Linked DNA regions of Homo sapiens: regions 1 and 3 are each linked to region 2. The links come from fine-mapping of genetic effects on gene expression. A gene starts in region 2. Each other region holds a variant in brackets. All regions are shown on one strand. Distances are between the middles of the regions.

The links. PIP is the estimated chance that this variant, and not a neighbour inherited with it, causes the effect. A credible set is the group of variants that fine-mapping cannot tell apart.
Region 1: its variant is the best candidate, but not a certain one, in a credible set for the expression of ADD3 in whole blood (TOPMed, PIP 0.90).
Region 3: its variant is the best candidate, but not a certain one, in a credible set for the expression of ADD3 in whole blood (TOPMed, PIP 0.65).

The regions. Positions count from the first base shown.
Region 1 is chr10:110,116,260-110,121,484 of GRCh38, reverse strand. ADD3 (adducin 3) reads right to left here. Exons shown (of 15, transcript NM_016824.5): 4 at 5,075-5,225; 5 at 4,063-4,143; 6 at 2,749-2,898; 7 at 2,131-2,274; 8 at 1,921-2,019. Among named protein-coding and RNA genes, the nearest start is that of MXI1, 89 kb to the left of the region's middle. The variant A/C (reference allele first, on the strand shown) is at 2,733.
Region 2 is chr10:110,005,783-110,011,007 of GRCh38, reverse strand. It overlaps ADD3 (adducin 3), which reads right to left and starts at 3,024. Exons shown (of 15, transcript NM_016824.5): 1 at 2,709-3,024. ADD3-AS1 (ADD3 antisense RNA 1) reads left to right here and starts at 2,627. Exons shown (of 5, transcript NR_038943.1): 1 at 2,627-2,827; 2 at 4,927-5,051. RefSeq lists silencers at 2,292-2,701, 3,012-3,441 and enhancers at 3,270-3,823, 3,824-4,379.
Region 3 is chr10:109,937,648-109,942,872 of GRCh38, reverse strand. No RefSeq gene overlaps it. Among named protein-coding and RNA genes, the nearest start is that of XPNPEP1, 17 kb to the right of the region's middle. The variant G/T (reference allele first, on the strand shown) is at 2,372.

The DNA.
Region 1 (5,225 bases), 110 kb before region 2:
GAGGACTGAGTTTCACTCTTGTTGCCCAGGCTGGAGTGCAATGGCACGATATCGGCTCACTGCAAACTTCGCCTCCCGGGTTCAAGCGATTCTCCCGCCTCAGCCTCCCAAGTAGCTGGGATTACAGGCACATGACACCACGCCCTGTTAATTTTGTATTTTTAGTACAGACGGGGTTTCTCCATGTTGGTCAGGCTGGTCTCGAACTCCTGACCTCAGGTGATCTACCCAGCTCAGCCTCCCAAAGTGCTGGGATTACAGGCATGAGCTACCGTGCCTGGCCAAATCTGCTTGATTTAAAGAGAAAATTAGGGCCTTTAGTTTAATTAGATCCCATTTGTCAATTTTGTCTTTTGTTGCCATTGCTTTTGGTGTTTTGGACATGAAGTCCTTGCCCATGCCTATGTCCTGAATGGTAATGCCTAGGTTTTCTTCTAAGGTTTTTATGGTTTTAGGTCTAACGTTTAAATCTTTAATCCATCTTGAATTGATTTTTGTATAAGGTGTAAGGAAGGGATCCAGTTTCAGCTTTCTACATATGGCTAGCCAGTTTTCCCAGCACCATTTATTAAATAGGGAATCCTTTCCCCATTGCTTGTTTTTCTCAGGTTTGTCAAAGATCAGCTAGTCGTAGGTATGTGGCGTTATTTCTGAGGGCTCCGTTCTGTTCCATTTATCTATATCTCTGTTTTGATACCAGTACCATGCTGTTTTGGTTACTGTAGCCTTGTAGTATAGTTTGAAGTCAGGTAGTGTGATGCCTCCAGCTTTGTTCTTTTGGCTTAGGATTGACTTGGCGATGCGGGCTCTCTAGTTCAACCATTGTGGAAGTCAGTGTGGCGATTCCTCAGGGATCTTGAACTAGAAATACCATTTGACCCAGCCATTCCATTACTGGGTATATACCCAAAGGACTATAAATCATGCTGCTATAAAGACACATGCACACGTATGTTTATTGCGGCATTATTCACAATAGCAAAGACTTGGAACCAACCAAATGTCCAACAATGATAGACTGGATTAAGAAAATGTGGCACATATACACCATAGAATACTATGCAGCCATAAAAAATGATGAGTTCATGTCCTTTGTAGGGACATGGATGAAATTGGAAATCATCATTCTCAGTAAACTATCACAAGAACAAAAAACCAAACACCGCATATTCTCACTCATAGGTGGGAATTGAACAATGAGATCACATGGACACAGGAAGGGGAATATCACACTCTGGGGACTGTGGTGGGGTGGGGGGAGGGGGGAGGGATAGCATTGGGAGATATACCTAATGCTAGATGACGAGTTGGTGGGTGCAGCGCACCAGCATGGCACATGTATACATATGTAACTAACCTGCACAATGTGCACATGTACCCTAAAACTTAAAGTATAATTAAAAAAAAAAGAAAAAGAAAAAGAAAATTAGGGCCTTTAAATACATTCAACATCTCTGATGAAAAAAATGATTAATAAATATCCAACCTCTCATCATAATGAGGCTGTGGAATTGTTGAAAACTGCAATTTCATATAACTTCTGGACCTAGTCAAACTTTTTACAAAAGTGACCACAACACATTTGATTCTTGATTTGCAGCTGTTTTTCTTCCTTAATTAGTACCACCACTACAGGGTGAAAACAGAAATATGCAATTGTACTAACTTAAAAAGCAGGATTGTAGGGAAAATGATGTTTATGAGGCCCTTAGATTGTGTGTGAGAAAATTTTAATTTCCTTTACTCCTATTTTCAATTCAAGAGATAACTGAGTTGAAAACCCTGCCTACATAAGTAGAGCAGAACTTCTCTTAAAAGACAAAAAGCCACTAACTAATATGTATTTGCAAATAAGTACACAAAATCCAACTAAACGAGCAAATAACAAAGCAATTAAAAAAGGGGAATAATGTTTCCTACCTGAATCTCACAGGCTAGTTGCACATTAAAAATATAATGAAAAGCCTCCTCTAATGTTTCTCCAAGTGCAACCACACCATGATTCCTGAGTACCAGCACCTAAAATAGAATGCCCACAGCAATCACTTGAAATAACTGGCATAGCTCACACTGTTTTCATCAACAGCAGCAGCAACAAAAATAGCTCCTTAGACAAACTCTACTACATACCTTACAACTTGGTCCCAGAACCTTCTGCAGTTGAATTCTCTCCTCCTGTTCTTCAAGTGACCCTTGGTAGTCATAATAGGCAACATCTCCCAGAAGAAGAGACTCTTGAGAAATTGGAAGGATCCCACATTTCATGGAGGATACCTATTTGGTTTGGCCCATACCAAGATAACACATTTGGTTACTAAATACATTTTCATAGGAACCTGATTGTTTGGTCAGCTCAGGAAAACACTGGCCTATTCACTGTGTTTCACCATTGCAGCCCACTTCCCACTTTATTCACTTCCCATTTTGTTTCTTCCACACACACACAAAAAGGACTTAGGGAATACAACTCAACTTATATGCTGTGTCAAATATTATGAAAGAAGCTTTGCTCCAAAAAACTCAATGACCCAATTTTCAAACTGGTTAGTTTTAGAATCCAAATGTTATTTCTCCAGTTGTTTCCTAGAATGGTAGCATTTGGTCCCAAAGGCCTTTTGCTTTCTGGGTATGCAGATTATTGTATCAAATATGATTTTGAAAAGCAGATAGTAAAGCATCCTGTTGAGAAAGCCACAAAAATAATACATCTTCCAGCGTCCTGTCAGTTTTGG[A/C]CTTTCATTGACTTACAGCTGCTGTTGCAAGGGTATGGATGTGTATCACACACTTAACATCAGGACGTGTTGAATAGATTGCAGCATGGGGACTGAATCCTGTATGGTCAATTTTCAAATTGGTACTTCCCTGGTCAACCACTTCTCCTATTATATTGACTTTCACCTGGAAAAAATCAGAAGGACATATTTAACTGGTATATACGTATCAAAGTTTGTGTTTCACAAGCTAAACCAGGGGGTAGCAAACCTTTTTGTAAAAGGTCAGATAGCAAATATTTTGGACTTTGTGGGCCTCTGCTGCAATTACTCAAATCTGCAGCTGCAGTACAAAAGCAGCCATAAACAATCTGTAAGTTAACAGGTATAGCTTTGTTCCCATAAAACTTTATTTATAAAACAGGTGCAACAAAACTTGGTACTTGGCAAGAAGTACAGTTTCCAAGAAAAGGAGAAACTTAAGCTCTTCATCGGAGGTCTGAACAAGTCTGGCATGTATAGAATTGGCTAGAAAACTTCTATTTGCTAACATTGCAGCAAGCACCCAGAACCAAGGTAGCTCCTGTCACTCTGTAAGCTGATGACAGTGGCTAGGAGTAGTCATGGAAAAGATAAAATACTAAGGTCAGATCCTATACTCATACCAGCTGAACTTTGTTTAAATCTAGCTATGAACATTGTGTGTGTGTGTGTGTGTGTGTGTGTGTGTGTGTGTGTGTGTGTGTGTGTGTGTATTGAAGACAGAGTCTCGCCCTGTAGCCCAGGCTGGAGTGCAATGGTGCGATCTTGGCTCACTGCAACCTCTACCTTATGGATTCAAGCGATTCTCCTGCCTCAGCCTCCCGAGTAGCCGGGATTACAGGTGTGTGCCACCACGCCCAGCTAATTTTTTGTTATCTTTAGTAGAGATGGGGTTTCACCATGTTGGTCAGGCTGGTCTTGAACTCCTGACCTCGTGATCCACTTGCCTCAGCCTCCCAAAGTGCTTGGATTACAGGCGTGAGCCACTGCACCTGGCCGTGTGTGTTTTTTTTACACAATTTTTTTACACAAATTTCTGAGTGTATAGGGTGGTAAAAAAAAAAAAATCACGATTCCCTTCAAAACATAGACAAGTTAACTGATAAGACCAACTCATTTATTAGTCTCTTCAATTACGCTATTCTCTAAAGCTTTTCCCTAAAACAACATAGTTCAAATTCCCTTCACTGTTCACTAGTAAATGTTTTTCCATCCATACCTTCTTATTCTGTCCTGTGCTAAAAGCTAAGAACTGTCAGAAAAGCCAAAGAAAGCTCAGAAAAAGCAACACAGGAATGGAAAATTATACCAAATTGGAGGCTGTAGCTTCAGAAAAAGATAGGCCTCTGGGAATTATTATAATGTGGTCTTGCTCCTTACTTATTCTTACCTGGAAAAAAAAACAACAGGGAATTACTATGAAGTGGTTCATATTTTGCAGTGGAAACATGACTACAAATATATTTACAATGAATAATTGTAAGAGATCAGGAAAAAAAAAACCAACAAAGCAAAAATTAAAGGTCTACAACATGAAACTTTCCTAAAGTTTCCCTCAAGTACTTGCTAAAAAATTCTGACTTTAGTTTCTTATTTACTGGACTTACCTAAAAGTGTTATTTTGGGGCTCTAAGGTTATTTAGGGTCAGCTATGTTCATGAAAAATAAATGCTAATATTATTCAAGCCAATGTGGTAATAATTATAACCTTAATTTATAACTTGGAAGTTAAGGCAAAATGGGCAAAGGAAAGAGAACAAAATCTCTTCCTAGGAAGGAATTAAAATAAAGATGGAAGGTGGAAAGGAAGAAAGATTCTTGATGGACTGCATCTGTACCATTTCCATTGTACAATATTTTAATCCTCTTTTGTTTCCAAATAGCATCTTTTTCCAAGTGTGGCAAAATAAAAATATGATGGTGAATGGAAAGAATATATTTTAAAAATAAAGACCAGGGAGGAAACTTCCCTGACCTCCTCTATCTTCCTTGCCTCAAATGCTTTTTAAAGCCACTGATGCTCAGACATAATTATCATGGAGAGGGACAATTTTGCCAGAAGGATTTCTTCCTGGATAGATTCTACAGTTGGTCTGAACCAAAGGAACTTGGAACAACATAGATAGTAAGGGGAGAAGAAAGGTGGGGGAATTGGAGCCTCTCCCTTGGGTATAAGGTTTAAATCAGTATTTGGTTGTGATCTAGCATACTAGGTTTAGAGAATAAGTCTGAAAACTGGACTTCCAGGTAAAGGTAAGAAGAGTATAGTTGCCTTCTAGCTGGAATTTTTTAAAAAAGGAATTGAAAGCTGAAGAACTCACTGAGATATAGGTATTTGCCAGGTGTGCCCATCCAAACAAGTCTACAAGTCTGTACAGGCTGGCAAGTTTACAGCGAGTAAGTTTTTCTCCCTTCACATATGAGGATGTATCTGCACCAGGAAGGTCATTGATAGGTGTGACCATGCCAAGA
Region 2 (5,225 bases):
CAAAAGAGAATACCCTTTCAATGTCAAAAGGTGACTGTATTTAATGCGGATTAACCACCACTCCTTAGATTTAAGCATAACTTGGTGGTATTAATACCAGAGGATGTGGTTAAACAAGACATGTGCACCTGATAGTCGTGGGAATACTATGAAGACCTCTCACTGGTTTGCAGTAATTACCATGAGCTCAATAGCAACAAGGGGCAGTGGTTACATGGGCTCACTCTTGGGCCAGACTCTGGCTTCAGAACCAACCTGTGTCACCTTGGGAAGATACTTAACCTCTCCATGCCTCTGTTTAGCCACTGGGTTGTTGGAAGGACTAAGTAAATTAAATCATATAAAACTCTTAGTGCCTGGCACAGAGGTTAGGCAAATAAATATTGGCTATTACAAATATTTGCTGAGTCTTCACATGCTGGGTAGCATGACCTAACAGCCTTCAAAAAGATATGTCACTTTACATACTGATAATGATAAACACAAAAAGCACTGAATACAAACCCCATTCTAAGCACTTTACATATAACAACTCGGTTAAGCTAAAGTTCTGATGTGACTGTTCCCCAACACGCTACACAGTTTGTTCAGAGCCAGGTTTCTATGCTTTTATGTGATTTCTTCCCTCAAACACTTCTTATACTCTGATGACATGCATACATGCCACCCAGTACTGCTAACCAACTGCTTTGAAATGGGAGAGATTAACCAGCTAACCACCTGTAGGCTTACATGTGACAAAAGCACTCAGACATGATAGGCCTACTTCAGGAAGCCTCAAAACCTCAGAAGTTGGGCACCACCCTGTATCTAGGTTTTAGGATTGTGTGTAGGAGTTGGGCTGTTGCTGATGTTATGTTCTCTTGGTCTCAAAAGACATTCTGGTTTTACAAAGGCCAGATCTACACTTTAAACATAATTAGGCAGAATTCACATTCATGCCAGCATAATATTGAAGAAAGGGGTGAGACAGCAAAGTGTGTAATTTTCTCCCTTTCAGTCAATGCTTGAAACTTACATTACGAAAATACTATCCTTCTATCATGCAAAATATTTCCCAAGTGTCATATGATCAACTATGTCAAATGTTCACCAAACATTTCCTGATATCATATATGTAAAATGTAGCAATACATTGAATGTCTCATAACCAACTATCTCAAGAACTCCTTCAAATTATGTTTAACATTCAAAATAGATACACCCGTTTCTTCTTTAAAAACTATTACCAACATGCCAGCACTTCTGGGCACCTTAAGTGTTATCACAGACTGAACTCTTCAGAAAGATGAAGAGTTAAATGTAGCTGCCTTTATTTTATCCTGGTCCTCCTTCCATAAAGTTAATCTGCTCCATTTAAGCAAAGGAAAATAAGTTATAATGCAAGTACAATATAATGGAGACTTCGATATAAAAACTTTCTACAAATGCTCCATTTATAATGTTCCAGTTATTTATAGGGTTAAGTAACTTAACCCTATAAATGGGTTGGTCCCATAACTTAATTACACAAATATTTTTAACAGTCAAGTATTTAACTTGAAAACGACAAATTGCACTGTACTCTTATTTTTTCAATCTTTAAAAACACTCTCACTAGGAGTCTTCTAAAGCCAAAATTAGGAACGTACCCTGCACTATGTAGTCAGAAGCCATTCCAAGAAAAGCAACCATTTAATACTGCTAAATCTAAAATGCTACATAATTTAACGTAAACTTGCACGCACGTGTATGTAGCTAGTCCCATACCCCAGAATCTTATCAATTCCTTCCCCAAACTTGCATATAATCCTCCCTCAAAGCCTCTTGGCTAAGTTAAATTCCTTAACACTCTACCAGGTTAATTGCAACAGCACATGTGCCAAGGAAATTAGTGGTTTTCCTTGCGCTCCCATTTTCAACCGGCACCTACTTGCAATTAAATCTCTGCAACAAAAAAGTTCACCTGAAGCCGTTCTTGCCATTTTAAAAGAGGCCCAGATTATGCTACCTGTCTGTGGTCTTGCCTAAGCTATAATAGCCTACCTCCAAAGAGGCTGGACGTGCCCCAAACACCAGCACACCAGACCTGCTGCCAACTTCGCTTGTCACCCCTAGCAGGAAGCTCAACCTAACATGTATACGTTTGTAGGGGCGGTGTGTTTGTGTGTGTCTGTGTTGGGGGGTGGGGAAGCGGATTATAGGAGAAAGGTGACTGAACACTTTCAACTTGTAACAAAAAAAATTTTTTTTAAATGAGGAGAAAAACAACTAAAACCAACATTCGCTCCCTTTCCTCCACCTTTTCTAAGCGCAGGAACCTCTCACTCCCCTGGAGCGCACCTTCAGGGCTTAAGGTCCCCGGGGTCACCTAAGCTTCAGCCAGTAACTGATTTTGGTACTCCCCGCCTTCCTAGGGAAAACCAGCAGACGCGCGAAGCGTCGGGCCCACCCGGCGGCGCCGCAGGCCGTGCACCGCCACCCCCGGACCCTCCCCCGCAGGTACGCTCCCCTCTGGCCTGGCCGTGGTCCCCACTCCCGCCCCGGAAAAGGGTTCACCTGAGGCCGCAGGGACAGCCAATGAGAAGTCCCCTTGGCCCCGCCAGCCGCCGCTCCCTACCCCCGCGCGACCCCCAGTAGCGTCCCCAGTGCTAGCCCCCGCGCGGGTGCCCGCGTCCCGGCCCGGAAGAGAGGCGGGACGACGGCGCGTCCTCTCCCCGCAAGATTACCTCGCAGCGCGTAGCCGGCTTTGTGTTTCCCCTCCCTCCTTCTCGGCAGCCGCCCGGGCTGCAGCAGCCGCCGGATCCGCCGCTGCGGCCGCCTCTTAAGCGCCGCAGAGCCCCAGAGGGTAGGGCGGGAGAAGGGGAGGGGGCTTGAGGAGGGAGGGACCTGTACGCCGAGCCCTGTGCAGCAGGAAGCGGCGACACCTGGGATGCCGACGCCTCTGGCGCTTGCTCTGTGTTTTAAAAAATCTAATTTAAACCCCTCTTCTTTCCCTCCCGCCCCTCACACTGGCGACCGTTACGGGCTGGCGGCTCGCGCTCTGGCGGGACTAGCCGAGCGCCCCTCGAGCGTCCCTTGGTCCCGCCCCCTAACGCCCCGCCCCTAGGTCCCCAAGCGCCCCCCCCGGTCACGCCCCCAAGGTCCGCCCCTCGCAGCCCCCTACGCCTCTGGCCCCGCCTCTTGGGCTCCGAAGCCTCCCGGCCCCGCCTCCTCAAGACCTCGCCTCTGGCAGCCCCGAGCTCTCTCTGGCCCCGCCCCGAGCGCCCCTCGGGAGTCCTGGTCCCGCCCCCGCAGCCCCCTCCGCGCCCTCAAGCTCTAAGTCCGTGAAGCCGCAGCGGTGGGGGCCTGCAGGCCCGGCAGCCGGGAGGGCCTGGTTCGGGGCGGCTGCCTGGCGCCTTTTCAACGTCCTCTTCTGACTGTGCAGCTCGAATCCGCGGCGTCCCCGGAGGGCCAGAGGGGGAAACGACCCCGATAGAAACCCGACCGCGAAGGGGAGGAGGGGCGCCTCGGAAATGTCTCCCGCCCTAAATGAGCGAGCCCCCTACTCCTACTCCCGAGGCTGAGCCGCCGCTTTGAGTCAGCCTCGGCCGCCCACGCTGGCTGCTGGGGCTGTAGGAGGCCACTGCAAAGGTTCAACCTCCGCACGCCCCCCGTGGGGCCTGGACTTTGCTCTCAGCACAGCTGCCTTCGCGGGCGCCTAGTCCCCACAACCCCTGCTTCACCTCCACATAGGGGGAGGACAGGGGCTCTCGCTTCTGCTTCATTTGGACCCCTCGAGAGTCTTCACTCCCGCTTTGGCTCCCGGCCTCTGAACCTTATGAGAGCTCACTTCTTTGAGGCGAAAAGTCGAGGCATCGCCAAGAACCTTCAAAATGAATGCGGGGCCGGGCAAACTTTGCAACACGCAATTGCAGGGCTGTGGATCCATCCACAGGTGACACCGGGCCTCCCACCCCCCTCGCCCAGACATGTTTCTCATCCCAACCTATTCTTGAAATAGACCTCCCAGCGGTGCACACTTTTCTCTGCCACCCACGACTTCCACGTCCCTCCTGCACCAGTACACTTGCAAGCACACCCCTCCGAGCGCCATTCTAATGATTCATGGTCCCTTGGGCCAACCCCACCCTAACACACACAACAAACTTCGTTCCCCACCCTTATCCCCCTTCGTTTCCAAGGCACTGGCGACAATCCACTTCATTTCCTTTCCTCATCTGCAGACTCGTCCCCCTCAAATACCTCACGCCATCCGCCTCATCTTCATCCCCCCCCTCCTCCCTAAAAATGTGCTAATTAAAATGTAGTTTCCTCTTCCCACATATGAAGTGTGGAAAATGAATCTTGTCTTGACACAAACTGTGATGCATTTATCGTTTTCTCTCTCCACTGGACTAAGGCTGTAGAAATTTTAGTCTACCACCATCTCCCATTTGCTCAAAAAATCCAACCATGCCTTATTATTTTTAAATACTCTTAACGAATCGTGGGGAAGGCTGCCTAGTTTGAGGAAGAAAATTGTTTAGAAAATGCTCAGCCTGACATTTTATTTGGTATTTAAAAATATCTGCAGTATTTGAGAGAGATATTGGGAGTGGCTGGATATTTTCTTGCATTTAAAAAGCAAAAAAATGAAAAGCTTTGCATGCATCAAGGTTAGCCTTTTTATGAATAGCAAAAAAAGTATCCTAAGGGCACCTATCAGAATATAGTCCTCACTATATTTTGCTAGTCGCAAATCTGGACACCCCCACCACCACCAAAGGAAGACAAATTAACATAATCCATTTTAAGCATGTCTGATGAACAGTCTTTTCCATGATCATTCCTTTTCTCACAGTTTCTGGACAAAATAGCTAGATAGATCTCCTTACCCACCGAAGATCCAAAGCTTCCTTCTAACAAGGGTAGTAGACGTACGTGTCTGTGTCTTCTGTTCTCTAGGTGTGGATTCTGCAATGCTGCACAGAAACCTACTGCAGCCTCAGACCAACAGCAGCAGCAGCAGCGGCGGCGGCGGCAGCAGCAGCAGCAGCATTAGCAGCAGCAGCTTCTCTCAATGCTGAGTAGTAAGTGTTTGACTTAGTAAACTCTACAATTACCATTAGGCGCTTGCTTATGAGAGGAGGCGGAATCTTTCTTAAAGGAATGGGTTTTGTTTTTCCTCTCTAGTATTGCTTCATAAGAGGCAGAGAGGATGGAATCAGGGAGTTTTGTGGACTGAGTAAATGAGTACAGCTGTG
Region 3 (5,225 bases), 68 kb after region 2:
TTCTCATTCCAGTGGCCGTTTGGGCATCCTGGGCCAGCCCAAGGACATCTTCCAGTGGCCGTTTGGGCATCCTGGGTGGTAGCAGGTATCTCCATTGCACTCTATTTGCCACCTCACCCTGAAGGAAGGTACGAGGGCCCCTTCAAACGCCATACAAAGACCTTCCGGAGTGCCCAGTGTGCAGATTGCCTGGTACAATGTCCAGCCTCCCCAGACCTTCTATCTTCACTTCTATCTTTCTCTTGCAACTTGACCTTCATCTGTTTTGAAATCCCTAATTGACCTGGGTGGGCATGGGCCTTGGGAGGAACTGATGAACATTCTTTTTATTTTCTCACTCACCCCTGCCACAAACATTCTTTAATAGGCTTTAGCCCCTTTATCTCTTCTTTTGTCTTCTTGTCTCAAGGGCCCCACTGCTTCTTTCTTCCTTCCTTCCCTTTCCTTCCTTCCTTCCCTTTCCTTCCTTCCTTCCCTTTCCTTCCTTCCTTCCTTCCTTCCTTCCTTCCTTCCTTCCTTCCTTCTTCCTTTCTCTCTCTCTATTTCTTTCTTCCTCTCTCTCTCTCTCTCTCTCTCTTTCTTTTGACAGAATCTTGCTCTGTTGCCCAGGCTGGAGTGCAGTGGTGCGATCTCAGCTCACTGCAGCCTCCGCCTCCCTGATTCAAGCAATTCTCCTGCCTCAGCCTCCCAAGTAGCTGGAACTACAGGTGCACGTTGCCATTCCTGGCTAATTTTTGTATCTTTAGTAGAGACAGGGTTTCACCATGTTGGTCAGGCTGGTCTTGATCTCCTGACCTCAGATGATCTGCCTGCCTCAGCCTCCCAAAGTGCTGGGATTACAGGCATAATTAAAGGCCTGCCCCTTTCATTTCAATCTGTTCCTGAGTGTCCCTGATGACCCTGTCCCTCATTGCCTGTCCCAATGGGAAATGCCCAAGACTGGAGGGCAGGGCCTAAGGACAAGCTGCAGGGTCGGGGCATGACAAAGGTTTTTCTGCTCAGCTGCTTCTCTTTCCCACTCTGCTGTTCCTTACTACTTCAGAGAGAAAATCCCAAAGAAGGTGTTTCTGCGGCTTGGCAAAGGGAGGAGAGAGTTCATGGGTTCTCAGGAATGCTACAGTTAATGCCTCTAATTAACACCCCAGGTGCTTCTGCTACGGCTGCACTGCTGCTTTGTAATCATTTCTCTGTACTCTGCCTCAGACATGCGCTCTGGAACCGTGAGCCATTTGGGAGGTGCAAGAGGATTCCAGGAAATGGCAGCAAGGCCTTAGAGGAGTTTAAGTATGTACTTGGCCAGGACAAAAGTCTGTCTTCATCTAGGCTCTAGGTGCTGACTTCTGTAACAGGGGAGCTGTTAACTTCTTCCTGGGAATCCACCTTCTACCCCACACCCAGAAGCAGAGCACCATCCACTCAGGCCTCCAAGTGCTCCAGGCCTTGTATTCCACCTCTGCCTACTTTGAGCCAGCAACTGATTTCAGCAGGAATTCACTGAGACTGACATCCTCTATGCTCAGCACTGTGTGCCAATAGTATGGCCACACAAGTAGATTTTTTCCTATTTCTCTTTTCTTAGGCTAATGGTTCAGCTCTAAAGATAAGACTTATGTAAGTAAAATAAGCAGAATATCTATTAACTTCGTATTCAGTTCCTGAAGGAATATAATCAAAGCAATACAGGGAGTCGGTACAAGGTAAAGTCAAAGTCGTGTGTTCAATATGGTAGCCACTAGCCACAAGCACCTATTTAAATGTAAATTAAAGAAAATTAAATGAAATAAAAAATGTAGTTTCTCAGTCATACTAGGCATAGTAGGTGCTCAACAGCCACATGTACCTAGTGGCCACTATACGGGAAAATGCAAAATTAACCTTCTCACTAGAGAAAGTCCTATTGGACAGTATTGGCTTGCAGTAATAGAGGCCAACTTCAGAGTATAGGTGTGGCTCCACCTGGGCCTGGAAGTATAGCAGAATTAGATAGAAGAGGAGGGAAAGGGAAAGGGTCTTCCAGGTGGGACAAACGGTGTTCAGAGATTGGAATGAACCTGGCATACCGGGCCAACACTCAGTGGGAGAGGACTAGCTGGAGTAGAACATTCCTTTTGAGGAACTGAGAAAGGCATCATCACTGATTATAACAGGCACAGAGAATGCAACAGAAGAGCCCAACCTCCTCCTCTCAATTCTCAATTGAAATTGAGATTGATGGGATTCCCGTAATCCCACCTTTCACTTTTACTCCACCCCATCAAGAGGACAGGGTTCTGATTCAACCTTGGGCTTCTGATCTTGGGGGGTGGGAGCTTGGAGTCATAACTAATTATCTGCTCTATTTGAAAACACTGCTGGGACTGGACTGTGTTGG[G/T]GACCTGAACCTGCAACCTGTGACCTTACTCCCCACTCGAGCTGGCCTTTGAACCTGCTTTGTCACTGAGAAATGATGAAAAGCTCAGAAGTCAGACCCACTTGAATTCAATTACTGGCACTTCTACTCACCAACCAAGTGCTCATAGGCAAGTAATTTAACTCCTCCAAACCTCAGTTTACCCATCTACAAAATGGGGATGATAATAGCACTGGCCTCATAGAATAGTTATGATGGTTCAATGGGATAACAGTTGCAAGGGGCTTGGCATAGTTCACAGCAAAATGAAATGAATAATCTATTCATTATGTTATTCCCCTATCACACTGAAGCTGTTTGCAGGTGCACTGCTGTTATTGTATCTGCTTCCTTCTGAATTAAAAAATTTTTAAATATAATTGAATCCATTGGTTTTTTCTCTAATGATTTGTGTTCTTTTTGTCTTATATAAAAAATTTTTCCCTACCTCAAGATCTTAAAGATTGTCACCTATATTTTCTTCTAAAAGTGTTTTTAAGTATATTTTTAATTGTAGAATAATATACTTACAAGGTGCACAGATGATAAAAGTATAGCTCCAGGAATTTTCATAAAGTCCACACATCTATGTAAGCAGACCCAGATTAAGAAAGAGCATAATCAGAAGCCAGGGGGTGTCACTCAGGCCTCCTTTAGTCACAAGCTCCCTAGCCAGGGTAAGTATTAATCTGACTTCTAATGTAACAATTTAGTGTTTCCTGTTTTTGAACTTTATAAAGGCCTACAGACGCAGCATATACTCTTAGATGTCTGAGTCCTATTTGTGTGATTCATTCACACTGTGCATACAGCCATAGCTTTTTCATTCCTACAGTTTTACACTTTTCAACTGTATGGATAGACCAGAATTTATTCATCCATTTCACTGTTTTTAGACATTTGAGTAGTTTCCAATTTTTGACTACAATGAACAGTGCTGCAATTGTACGTGCCTTTTGGTGAACATATGTACATATTTCTGTTGGGTGTGCAGGCCCAGGAGAGGATCATTCCTTAGTTGTTACCATAGTCTCCAAATGTCATAGCAGGAGGAAGGCTTGGGGTACATCCAATCTGCCCTGTTTCAGAGAAGGGGAAGACGGCCCAGTGTGGACAGTGATCTGCTGAGGCCCTGCAGCTCACATGTGGCAGAACTGGGTATCCCAAGAGCCAGAACCCTAATTTGTCCTGCTTTTCTTCCAGTTCTGTACCAGTACACCCCTGCTCACCTCCTCTAACTCCACAACCTAGGAGCTCCAATTAAGAAAACTGTAGCCCCTTAGGGCATTTACAATATTGCTTTCCTTTTTCTTTTCCTTTTTTAGAGACATGGCCTCACTCTGCTGCCCAGGCTGGAGTGCAATGGCACAATCACAGCTCACTGCAGCCTCAAACTCCTGGGCTCAAGTGATCCTCCCACTTCAGCCTCCTGAGTAGTTCGGACTACAGGCATGTGCCACCATGCCTGGCTAATTTTAAAAAAAATAGATATGTGGGCTCGCTATGTTGCCCAGGCTGGTCTTGAACTCTTGGCCTCAAGCAGTTCTTTCATGTGGGCTTCCCAAAGCACTGGGATTACAGGTGTGAGCCATCACACCCAGCTTAACACTGCTTTCTCAACTCAGCTTCAATTTTCCCTCATTTTGGTCAAACGTTCCCTAAAAGCCCAGAATATCTCCATGCCTTTTTGTTTCAAGTCTGCTATAACTATTGTCCTCCATGGTCTTCCCTGAACACCTCCTACTGCCCTGCAACATCTCCTTTTCATTTTCAGCATACCTGGTAGCTTCCTTCCCTAGGGCTCTCTAGCATGTCCGGTATGTGGTATGGACCTGTCTGATAATTCCATTACACTTATAATAAAAGCCCCTGCCCTCACCTGGCTCCTTGGCAGCTGGTGATAATGCATGCATGACCCACCAACCATGGCTCCTTCCATTAGCTATCCTGGACCTCCTTGGATTTATAATGTCCAACTGTATTGCTATAATCCTAGGGTGTGGGAGGCAGCATGGAAAGGGGAGAGATGCTGCAAACCTAGCTGTGGAAATGACCTGCCTAGGCTGGGCTGGGTCCCCTCCGCCAGGCACTGCTCCGGGGCACTGGCACATCCCACCCAGGGCAGCTCTTTCTTCTGTTCAGTGACTTTGTCAACTTTGGTGCTGCTGAGGCATCAAGACATTACTGTGAGGGCCCACCCCTTTACGTCCTTTAAATGTTAGGCTTCCAAAGAGGCCTTTCCTGACACTCCTAGAGAGATTACACCCCACTCCACTTCCAGCAACCCAATTTCCCTTCCCTTCCTTTTTATTTCTCTTTAACACTTATCACTGCCTTACATACTATATTTTTATTTTATTGCTTGTCTTTTCCCACTAGAATGTAAGCTCCACATAGGCCAAGATTTTGGTCGATTTTGTTTTTTGCTCTATTGCTGCCACTTAGGTGCCTGGCATATTGGAGCACTAAAAAAAAATTTGCTAAATATGGGAATACATTCAGAAGTTATCTAGAATTGGTGTCTCGGTCCTGCTCACCATCATTTTTAGGTCTTCAAACTCTAAAGCGTTGATCTTACCCTCTTTCTAAGGCTACATGACATGACCTAGATATTTGCCACATAAAAGACCTGCTTGCAAGTGATTTTTATTTGATGAGGGGGGAAATTTCTCCTTTTTTACTGCAACACAAGGTCTGGCATGTGAGTTGCATGGAAGAGGACAATTCAGCTGAATGGTAGGTCAACTTTGGCTAAGCTGGAACAAAACAGCCCCCAAGTTTGACCTCCACTGAGTGTTCTGCTGCCAGGTCGGGGCAGGGCTCAGTCATCGTTGAC